3 linked regions of the Homo sapiens genome follow. The protein of the gene in region 1 purifies or fractionates together with the protein of each later gene. This does not show direct contact. Each region holds a gene or a part of one and is shown in the gene's direction. Other genes may lie near its edges.

Region 1 (3,651 bases):
TCTCACAGCCTCGGAGAAGTCCAGGAGCTAGGTCAAGGCAGAGGGTTGGGGGCCACAGACAAGGCCAAGGCGGGGCATGGAACAGCAGGGGTCAGATGTTAGGGGAAGTACGTCGGCACCCGGGTGGGGATCTTGAATACTATGTCAGGCACCCACAACAAGAGCTTTGGGTGCTTTGTGTCTAGGGCCGGGTACCCTTGTTTCTGCTGCTGATGCCGTGTTTCCAGTCTGGATTTTAGCAAAATTAACTGACCCATCCTTCTATCTGATGCCTGTTTTCTTCTCTCTCATTAGGGAGTTCTGGGTCCAGCTTTTAGCCCACTTATCTGCCTCCAGCTTTCAGCCTACTTATCTGCCTTCCTTAATCTTTTCCCCCTTCTAACCTCTTTTGCTGGCCTGTGCTCCCAGAGTTCCCAGAGTCTGTCTACACAACTCCCTGTATGTCCTTGGCCTAGGAATTTTTTCCTGTGTTTCTCTAACCAGCTCCTTAGAACCTGGAACTTGTTTCCATGGTCTATACTTCTTTTCTCTATTTATCCATCTGTCTTCTGATTGAAAAAAAAAATTATTTATTTTTGAAAATTTTTAAATTTTTATTTATTTATTTATTTATTTAATTTTATTTTTGAGATGGAGTCTTGCTCTGTCGCCCAGGCTGGAGTGCAGTGGCGCAATCTCGCCTCACTGCAAGCTCCGCCTCCTAGGTTCACACCATTCTCCTGCCTCAGCCTCCTGAGTAGCTGGGACTACAGGCACCCCCTACCACGCCCAGCTAATTTTTTGTATTTTTAGTAGAGACGGTGTTTCACCGTGTTAGCCAGGATGGTCTCGATCTCCTGACCTCATGATCCACCCACCTCAGCCTCCCAAAGTGCTGGGACTACAGGCGTGAGCCACCACACCCAGCCATTTTTTTTTTTTTTTTTTTTTTTTTGAGAAGGAGTTTCACTCTTGTTGCCCAGGCTGGAGTGCAATGGCATGATCTTGGCTCACTGTAACCTCCACCTCCCAGGTTCAAGCGATTCTCCTGCCTCAGCCTCCCAAGTACCCGGGATTATAGGCATGCACCACCACGCCCAGCTAATTTTGTATTTTTAGTAGAGACGGGGTTTCTCCGTGTTGGTTAGGCTGGTCTCAAACTCCCGACCTCAGGTGATCCACCCACCTCGGCCTCCCAAAGTGCTGGGATTACAGGTGTGAGCCACCGCGCCTGGCTTTTATTTAAAAAAAAAAATTTGTTTTCAATTTTTTGTTGTTATTTTTTTTGTGTTTTTTTGAGACGGAGTCTCACTCTGTCTCGCCCAGGATGAAGTGCAGTGGCATGATCTCAGCTCACTGCAGCCTCCCCCGCCTGGGTTCAAGCGATTCTCCTATCTCAGCCTCCTGAGTAGCTGGGACTACAGGCATATGCCACCATGCACAGCTAATTTTTGTATTTTTAGTAGAGAAAAGAATTTCACCATGTTGGCCAGGCTGGTCTCAAACCCCTGACCTCAGGTGATTCACCTGCCTCTTCTTCCCAAAGTGCTGGGATTATAGGCGTGAGCCACCACGCCTGGCCTTAATTTTTTTTTTTTTTTTAAAGAGGTGGGGGTCTCACTATGTTGACTAGGCTGGTCTTGAACTTCTGCCTTCAAGCAATGCTCCCATGTCAGCCTCCCAGAGTCCTAGGATTACAGGCGTGAGCCACTGTGCTCAGCCTGAAAAAATATTTACTGAAGCCCTCTTTATGGTAGATGCCGGGAAAATATTGTTAGTTTTTGCTAGACCTTGCTGAGATGGCTTGGGTAGGAAGGCATCTTAGAGACTGGTTGGGGTGGGAGCAGAGCAAAGGGTTTGGAGCCTCTGAAGAGGCTTCTGGTCCCTTAGACTGAAACCATCTTCCATCTTTTTTTTTTTCTTTCTTTGTTTTGAGATGGAGTTTCGCTCTTGTTGCCGAGGCTGAAGTGCAGTGGCACAATCTCAGCTCACTGCAACCTCTGCCTCCTGGGTTCAAGTGATTCTCCTGCCTCAGCCTCCTGAGTAGCTGGGATTACAGGCACCTGCCACCACACCTGGCTAATTTTGTATTTTTAGCAGAGATGGGGTTTCACCATGTTGGCCAGGCTGACCTCCAGCTGGCCAGGCTGGTCTCGAACTCCTGACCTCAGGGGATCTGCCCACCTCAGCCTCCCAAAGTGCTGGGATTACAGGCGTGAGCCACCGCGCCCAGTTCATCTTCCATCTTTTCACCTCCACTGCATAGATGTGCCTGTTATATTTCTGAGCCCCCTTCCCCCAGCATTGACCTTGGGGTGGTGACAGTAGAAGGCTGAAACCAACATAGCTGAAACCTCTGCTTCTCTCACCTGGCAGGTAAAAGCAGCTGTTAAGTATGCCCTTAGCGTAGGCTACCGCCACATTGATTGTGCTGCTATCTACGGCAATGAGCCTGAGATTGGGGAGGCCCTGAAGGAGGACGTGGGACCAGGCAAGGTAAGGACTGGGGTTGTAAATAGAGGTGGGATAAGAGAACTTAGAAGCTGAAGCTAGGGCTGGGGCCCAGCTGGAGGGAATCTGGCATCAGCTTCCTTCCAGTTCCTCTCCCAGAGTTGAGGGTGGGTGAGACCACGTGCTCATGGCTCTTCTCACTGTGGGCCCTGCCCCCTGCACTAGGCGGTGCCTCGGGAGGAGCTGTTTGTGACATCCAAGCTGTGGAACACCAAGCACCACCCCGAGGATGTGGAGCCTGCCCTCCGGAAGACTCTGGCTGACCTCCAGCTGGAGTATCTGGACCTGTACCTGATGCACTGGCCTTATGCCTTTGAGTGAGCCTTGCCAGAGCCTCATCTGGGGAATCAGGGGGTTGAGCAGGATGGTGTTAGTAACTTATTGTAAGTCACAGCAGCAGAGCAGGATAGGAACACTCATTTGCATGCCAAGCTGAGGAGCTTGACATGGGATCTTAGCCTCTTCTGCTACAGCAGCTTAGCTGTAGCTACAGGAGTTTAACTCTGGAAAAAGGAAGGCAGTCTCACATGGTGTGTACCCCAGGGTATGCACCTGTAACCCTCCTGCTCCCTTTATTCATTTAGAAAAGGTGCTGACTTTTCTGTTGAGCACCTGGGGTTACAGTAATAAGTAAGTCTCAGCAGAAGATGTGAGAAGAGCTCACCATTAGTGCCGTGCCCTGTGCTGGAAGAAGGGTGGATAACTCCCTGAGGATGAGTTAAGGAAGACTTCCTAGGGGAGAGGAGATATCTACGTCTAGGAAGAGGAGGGGGCATAGGCATTCCATGTAAACTTAACACCTGGGTTACGATCTGGAAGGATGAAAAAGCATGGCTTTTTTTGGCCAGGCGCGGTGGCTCACGCCTGTAATCCCAGCACTTTGGGAGGCTAAGGCGGGCGGATCACGAGGTCAGGAGATCGAGATCATCCTGGCTAACACGGTGAAACCCCGTCTCTACTAAAAATACAAAAAATTAGCTGCGCGTGGTGGTGAGCGCCTGTAGTCCCAGCTACTGGGGAGGCTGAGGCAGGAGAATGGCGTGAACCCAGGAGGTGGAGCTTGCAGTGAGCTGAGATAGTGCCACTGCACTCCAGCCTGGGCGGTAAAGCGAGACTCCATCTCAAAAAAAAAAAAAAAGAAAAAGCATGGCTTTTTAAAAA
Region 2 (3,651 bases), on another chromosome or scaffold:
CTAGTCTAGGCACAGTGGCTCACACCTATAATCCCAACACTCTGGGAGGCTGAGGTGGGTGAATCATGAGGTCAGGAGTTCGAGACCAGCCTGGTCAACATGGTGAAACTCTGTCTCTACTAAAAATACAAAAATTAGCCGGGTGTAGTGGTGCATGCCTGTAATCCCAGCTACTCGGGAGGCTGAGGCAGGAGAATCACTTGAACCCAGGAGGTGGAGGTTGCAGTGAGCTGAGATCACGCCACTGCACTCCAGCCTGGGGGACAGAGTAAGCAGAGTGAGACACCATCTCACCAAAAAAAAAAAAAAAAAAGAAATCAAAGATTTAAAGTGAATTCTTTTTTAATTATATACCAAATCCTGGGGTAGGAATAGCAGCTGGATTTAAAGTAGTGAATGCAGAAGTAAATTGGTGGAGCAGGACCAGGAGGAGTTAATCACACCAGCCTATTGATAGTTCTAGCTCCCTATGTTGGCTGCACTGGAATCGGTCACTGTAGCTCACCATTAACCCTCTGCTTGCCCGGCCCCTCCAGGTTCCTGGCTCACGTCAGCTCCTACACAGAGACACCAGTGGTGGCCTGCATCGTGTCGGGGTTCCTGGCAGCGCTCCTCGCACTGTTGGTCAGCTTGAGAGACCTGATAGAGATGATGTCTATCGGCACGCTCCTGGCCTACACCTTGGTCTCTGTCTGTGTCTTGCTCCTTCGATACCAACCTGAGAGTGACATTGATGGTTTTGTCAAGTTCTTGTCTGAGGAGCACACCAAGAAGAAGGAGGGCATTCTGGCTGACTGTGAGAAGGAAGCTTGTTCTCCTGTGAGTGAGGGGGATGAGTTTTCTGGCCCAGCCACCAACACATGTGGGGCCAAGAACTTACCATCCTTGGGAGACAATGAGATGCTCATAGGGAAATCAGACAAGTCAACCTACAACGTCAACCACCCCAATTACGGCACCGTGGACATGACCACAGGCATAGAAGCTGATGAATCCGAAAATATTTATCTCATCAAGTTAAAGAAGCTGATTGGGCCTCATTATTACACCATGAGAATCCGGCTGGGCCTTCCAGGCAAAATGGACCGGCCCACAGCAGCGACGGGGCACACGGTGACCATCTGCGTGCTCCTGCTCTTCATCCTCATGTTCATCTTCTGCTCCTTCATCATCTTTGGTTCTGACTACATCTCAGAGCAGAGCTGGTGGGCCATCCTTCTGGTTGTTCTGATGGTGCTGCTGATCAGCACCCTGGTGTTTGTGATCCTGCAGCAGCCAGAGAACCCCAAGAAGCTGCCCTACATGGCCCCTTGCCTCCCCTTTGTGCCTGCCTTTGCCATGCTGGTGAACATCTATCTCATGCTAAAGCTCTCCACCATCACATGGATCCGGTTTGCGGTCTGGTGCTTTGTGGGTAAGCAACTTCCTTTGGAGCCTTAAGAGTTCCCTTTTAAGGTCTTAAGCATGCTTATCCCAAAATTACCTCCTAGCTGGACTAGGCAACTCCGTTCCCAGAGAAATCTGGCTGGTTCTATGGACCCTTGTGTTCCGCCTAAGAGTCAATAAAGCCAGTTGTCCCCTTTCTGCCTGTAATGTTCTTAGTCATTGGTTCTGGAAAAATGATGTTGATTAATCCATCGCTTTACTGAATTACTGAAAGTTCTTTCTATATCAGGATAATTAATACCAGAAAAAGTCCACTTAAAGTGAATCCACATTTTTAAGGTGACAAAAATAGCATAGTATAATTGGGGTCAGGGCATTTGGATGGAATTTTATCATAGAAACTAAGAATTGTAAAATGAAAAACTATCTTAGATTTCACAAAATTAAATTAAAATAGCAATTATGCTCTCATTTTTAAATGAACAAGGTGTGAATTAAGTGTGGATTTTTTGGCATAATTTTTCTGACAAAATTGAATCATGGCATCATTTAACATCTCTCACTTCATACTGACTTTTGTAAAATATTCAAAAGTTTTTCATATTTCCCAAGGTCCTTTCTTCATTCATTGACATTCCAATCATTCACTTGGGAAGTACCCATCATGCCACCATCCTTACTGATTTTCTCTCTCCTGCTGGTAATAACTAATATGACTCTGTTAGGTCCTCAATTGTCTACAATTTTGGGTGTGAATTCAAATTGTTCTCTAAACTCACTTTCACGGACTTCAAGAAGTCCTGTACCTTCTCTAAGATTTCTAATTTTACTTTGTGATCCATTTCTATTGTATTTGCAGTACTTGCTTATCATCTAGGACAATCTCTGATGTTCATGAGGTGGCTGGGGATTGATGCTAGTAAGAACTTGAGAAGTGTAATGGAAGACTCATTTTAAAGTTCCTTAGTCACTATTTGTATGTCCTCTGAACAACTTGGTAACCCTGGGGTCTCTGATAACAAATTCTTAGCTAAAGAGGATCTTTAGAAGCTCTGGGGAATAGAAGAGTAAACCCTGCCTAAAGGAGAGGCAAGACAAACACACGAGTCACTTAGCCCAAGAGAGGCCAAAGAGACTCTTTTTGTTGTTGTTGTTGTTGTTGTTATTTGTTTGTTTTGTTTTGTTTGTTGTTGTTGAGATGGAGTCTTGCTGTGTCGCCCAGGCTGGAGTGCAGTGGCTTGATCATGGCCCACTGCAACCTCCGCCAACCAGGTTCAAGCAATTCTCCTGCCTCAGCCTCCTGAGTAGCTGATATTACAGGTGAGTGCCACCATGCCCTGCTAATTTTTGTGTTTTTAGTAGAGATAGGGTTTCACCATGTTGGCCAGGCTGTTCTCGAACTCTCAACCTCATGATCTGCCCACCTCAGCCTCCCAAAGTGCTGGGATTACAGGCATGAGCCACTGTGCCCAGCCCACAGAGACTCTTAGTGATGAGTGGCAGTGCATCCACTCCTAGAGATCAGGAATACACTTGTTCAACATGTGTCCTCCGTGTCTGGAGCAGGGTGCCCGCAGTATGTGCTCAAAAATACTTCTTAAATTATTATAAAGTACTCTTCAAAGGGGAAAAAGGAAAACTTCCAGTCAGAATTGCCAGAAAAAACTTGGAGGGGGTAGAATACAAAGTGGCCCTATAAGTTAAGATATAGATAGAAAGAAGTGGGGGAAAAAGTAGCAACCAATGGAAAGGGCATATGTCTTCCCCAGAGGCCTGACTCCTTGCTTCTGAAGGCTGCTCTATGGCTTCCTGTAAGCATTTTGTCCCAATTTTTCACTATTCTAAGTCCCCCTGGTTAGACTTCAGGAGGATTTCTTGAGAGGACCCCACTGACTCATCAAGATTTTAACCAATTTTTATAACACATTTACAATCTCTTGGCTGGGCATAGTGGCTCACGTCTATAATCCCAGCACTTTGGGAGGCCGAGGAGGGCAGATCACCTGAGTTTAGGAGTTCGAGACTAGCCTGGCCTACATGGCAAAACCCCATCTCTATAAAAAATGCAAAAATTAGCCAGGCGTGGTGGCAAGTGCCTGTAATCCCAGCTACTTGGGAGGATGAGACAGGAAAATTGCTTGAACCCAGGAAATGGAGGTTGCAGTGAGCTGAGATCACACCACTGCACTCTAGCCTGGGAGACAGAGCAAGACTCCATTTCAAAAAATTTTTTTAAAAAAATTAATATTTTAAAACTTTTTAAAA
Region 3 (3,651 bases), on another chromosome or scaffold:
ATTGCAGGGGAGAGCCACCACGCCGGCCCCAGTGTAACTTGTAAGATTATTGTATTTATGTTATCTAGACAAGGTTTTAATATCCTGCTTTATTTTAAGGTTTTCATCTTAGCAAGGAAAACATCACTGGCTTGGAAATTCACACACTACCAGTTAGTAGCTTTGTGACCTTGAGCTAGTCACTTAACCTATCTGGTCTTCATTTATTTTATCTGTAAAATGGGAGTGGGTAATCTCTATTTTACCTCACTGGGTGGTTGTGAGACCCAACAGATGTAATGACTGAAAAAAAACAACATGCTAAATAAATTAATTTTAGAAAATTACATGAGCTGTTTTGAGGTCATTTTTAAAAGATACAGCTTCTCATTAGTCGTGGTGGTCCATGGGGCAGGGGAGAATTAATGTAAACTAGGTTGAAGGTACAGAGTTATAGAACTTCATAATTTGAAATTGCTGCTTAATTGGTAGTAGAATTTGGGTCTCATTTTTGTCTTTTTAAAGTTACCTTCTTTTTTTGGTATCAGCATGCCAGATACTTGTTTGCCATACATTCTACTGAAAAAACTTGTTAATATGTTTAAAGAAACTTCAAATTCATTTACGTTTTTTATTGACAAAGTACCTGTTCTGGTTTGTGACTCTAATGAAATTGACTTAATGTAAGAGATTACAATTAGGGAATAATGCTTCTGAATCTTGGTCACTGTTTTCTTTACAGAACCTAGGGAACTTTCCCCCCTTTTAAGTGGATGGGTAGGGATCTTTTTGAGCAAATGTGATACCAGTTGCTCCTTTATTTTTTTGTTTGCTATTTGATGGACTCAAGTCAAAACAGCAACCTACTTGGTTTTTTAATCTTCACTGAAATCATTCCTTGCAATTGCCTGTTTGACATGGACTTTTCCCTCATTTAAATCAAGCAAGCACCCACTATGTACAGAAAAACATAGAAGATAAAGGATGTGAAGAACAACTTACAACTCATGTCTTCAGATCACTTCCTCGAACAAGTTTCTACCTGTGATCTTTGTATTTCTGATTAACTGTACTTGCTTCGTTTCTGCATTACAGTATTGCATTTGTTGACATGTGTTGCTTTTGTTTCCCTGATTGGACTGTAGGCTTCCTGAGGGCAAGGATGATTTCATGTCAATGTGGTATGTGTGAAGGTATACTAATAAACCTGATTGGTCTGGGTGAGGTGGCACTGGAGGTGAGGACGTGGGAGGATCGCTTGAGGCTAGGAGTTGTAGCCCAGGCAACATAGTGAGACTGTCTCCACAAAAAAGAAAAAAAAAGTTAGCTGGGCATGGTGGCATGCATCAGTAGTTCTAGGCAACTTTGGAGGCTGAAGCGGAAGTATTGCTTGAACCCAGAGATTTGAAGTTAATAGTTATGATCATGCCACTGGACTCCAACCTGCTTGGAAGGGTTCTTTGACCCCAGCAGATTCTTCAGAATGCTTTCTCTTGGTTGGTTCAGTGATCAGGGCCTCTTCACATCTCCCCTGACTAACGTGCCATTAGAGTGCCTGGATGGATATCAACTGTCACTGCCATGTTTTAGTGTTAAGCCAGTGGATTATTCTGTGCCACTTTTTTCATAGGCCAAGCTTTAGTTAATAAGGCCAAGCCTGAGGAGAGTCCAGGCCAGATAGGGTGGAAGAGTAAAAATCTGGTGGATGTTACAGAATAAATATAATTTTTAGATTGTTGTATATAATCTTAGTGCTTGGTAATTTTTTTTTTTTTTTTTTTTTTTTTTTTTTTTTTTTTTTGAGACAGAGTCTCGCTCTGTTGCCCAGGGTGGAGTGCAATGGCGCGATCTTGGCTCACTGCAGGCTCCGCCTCCAGGGTTCATGCCATTCTCTTGCCTCAGCCTCCCGAGTAGCTGGGACTACAGGTGCCAGCCACCACGCCCAGCTAATTTTTTTGTATTTTTAGTAGAGATGGGGTTTCACCTTGTTAGCCAGGATGGTCTTGATTTCCTGACCTCGTGATCCACCCGCCTTGGACTCCCAAAGTGCTGGGATTACAGGCGTGAGCCACCGCGCCCGGCCAGTGCTTGGTAATTCTTAACGTGTAGTGTAATGTAAGCTTTACTTGTGTATTTTCTTTTGGTACTTGTGTATCATTTCAGCAGCTGTGTTACAGACTTGAAGACATAACCTCAAAGCAGTTGTTCTCTACCTCTCTGCTGGGTTTCTCTGTGCATAATGGATGCTTGCTGTTATTTGTAATAAATAGATAAGTATACCGATGCTAGACCTGTCCCTTGATTTTTCTTTTTTTTTTTTTAAGTAAAATTTAACTCTGCTAATGTCTTGGGTTTTTTAAAAATGTAGTTCTTTAATATCCTAACTTACTGATAGTTTTAGGTTATTGGCAAAAAGAGGTTTCCTAGACTGAAATAAGTCTGTTCAGTCATTTTTCTCTGAGGCCTTTTAGATTTTGGTTGTTTATTGTGATTTCAGTGATTTCATTAAACTGAATTGGATAGAAGAAAAAGGAACTTACCCATTATTCAGGCTTACCTGCTTTGTCTTGAGAGTGCAGAAGCTATTGGCAGTAGTCAGTTTCATGGTTATGCTTGTTCGTTTGTTGAGACAGAGTCTCACTTTTGTCACCCAGGCTGGAGTGCAGTGGCGCGATCTCGGCTCACTGCAACCTCCACCTTCCAGGTTCAAGTGATTCTCCTGCCTCAGCCTCCCAAATACTGGGATCACAGACGGGCACCTCCACACTTGGCTATCATGGTTATGCTTGATTTAAAAAGTCATTCAAATGGTCTAGAGTGAAAAATACCTGCTACTGTGTGTTTTCCTTAATAGCACTGTTCAAGTGATTATCTGATTTGAAGGCAAGACTTAGGTTCCAATCCTGGCTATGCATTTCCCATCTTTGTAACCTTGGGCAAATAATTTAACTTAGTACTTTGTGAGCTTCAAGTGCCTAATCTGAAAAATTTGATTATTACCACCTAATGTAGAGTCAGTTGTCATTTATATGCTAGACATTCTGTATTTAGATTAGGCTCCACAGATGAATTGGAACACAAGGCCCTTTCTCCACTTGTTTACAGTACTGTGGACCATTGCCTCATTTGTTAAAACTCTTTTAACTCGAACATACCTCTGTTATATGCATAGGTATCCTACTTGAAACATTTGACCCAGTGGCTCATGCCTGTAATTCCAGAACTTTGGGAGGCTGAGGCAGGAGGATCACTTGAGCCCAGGAGTTTGAGACTAGCCTGAGCAACTTAGTAGAGACCTTGTTGCTACTAAAAGTAAAAAATTAGCTGGGCATGGTGGCACATGCCTGTAGTCTTCAGCTACCTGGGAGGCTGAGGTGAGAGGATTGCTTGAGCCTGGGAGATGGAAGCTGTGCTGAGCTGTAATTGTGCCACTGCACTCCAGCCTGGGTGACCGTGAGACCCTGTCTCAAAAAATTTTTTTTTTTTTTTAGTATACAATAGTATTCCTTAGTTGATTATGAATTCTTTAAAGTCTTTAGCCCTCACCCTTTTTTTAACTTTTATAAGGACACTAATCCCAAGTAGTGTCCCTTTTTATCTCTGCATCTAGCACAGTAGCTGGCCCATGATAGGGATTAAGCGTTTGTTGACAGAATAAGTCTTGTGAAAATA

What was found.
Region 2: the proteins of AKR1A1 (region 1) and SLC7A14 purify together in Homo sapiens (co-immunoprecipitation; one large-scale study listed by IntAct). This does not show direct contact.
Region 3: the proteins of AKR1A1 (region 1) and TRIP12 purify together in Homo sapiens (affinity purification with mass spectrometry; one large-scale study listed by BioGRID and IntAct). This does not show direct contact.

What each region holds. Positions count from the first base shown.
Region 1 is NC_000001.11:45,564,214-45,567,864, forward strand, and holds part of AKR1A1 (aldo-keto reductase family 1 member A1), read left to right. Parts: intron 1-2,355; coding exon 2,356-2,475; intron 2,476-2,655; coding exon 2,656-2,807; intron 2,808-3,651. UniProt on the Homo sapiens protein: Catalyzes the NADPH-dependent reduction of a wide variety of carbonyl-containing compounds to their corresponding alcohols.
Region 2 is NC_000003.12:170,478,052-170,481,702, reverse strand, and holds part of SLC7A14 (solute carrier family 7 member 14), read left to right. Parts: intron 1-536; coding exon 537-1,414; intron 1,415-3,651. UniProt on the Homo sapiens protein: Imports 4-aminobutanoate (GABA) into lysosomes. May act as a GABA sensor that regulates mTORC2-dependent INS signaling and gluconeogenesis. The transport mechanism and substrate selectivity remain to be elucidated.
Region 3 is NC_000002.12:229,915,510-229,919,160, reverse strand, and holds part of TRIP12 (E3 ubiquitin-protein ligase TRIP12), read left to right. Parts: intron 1-3,651. UniProt on the Homo sapiens protein: E3 ubiquitin-protein ligase involved in ubiquitin fusion degradation (UFD) pathway and regulation of DNA repair.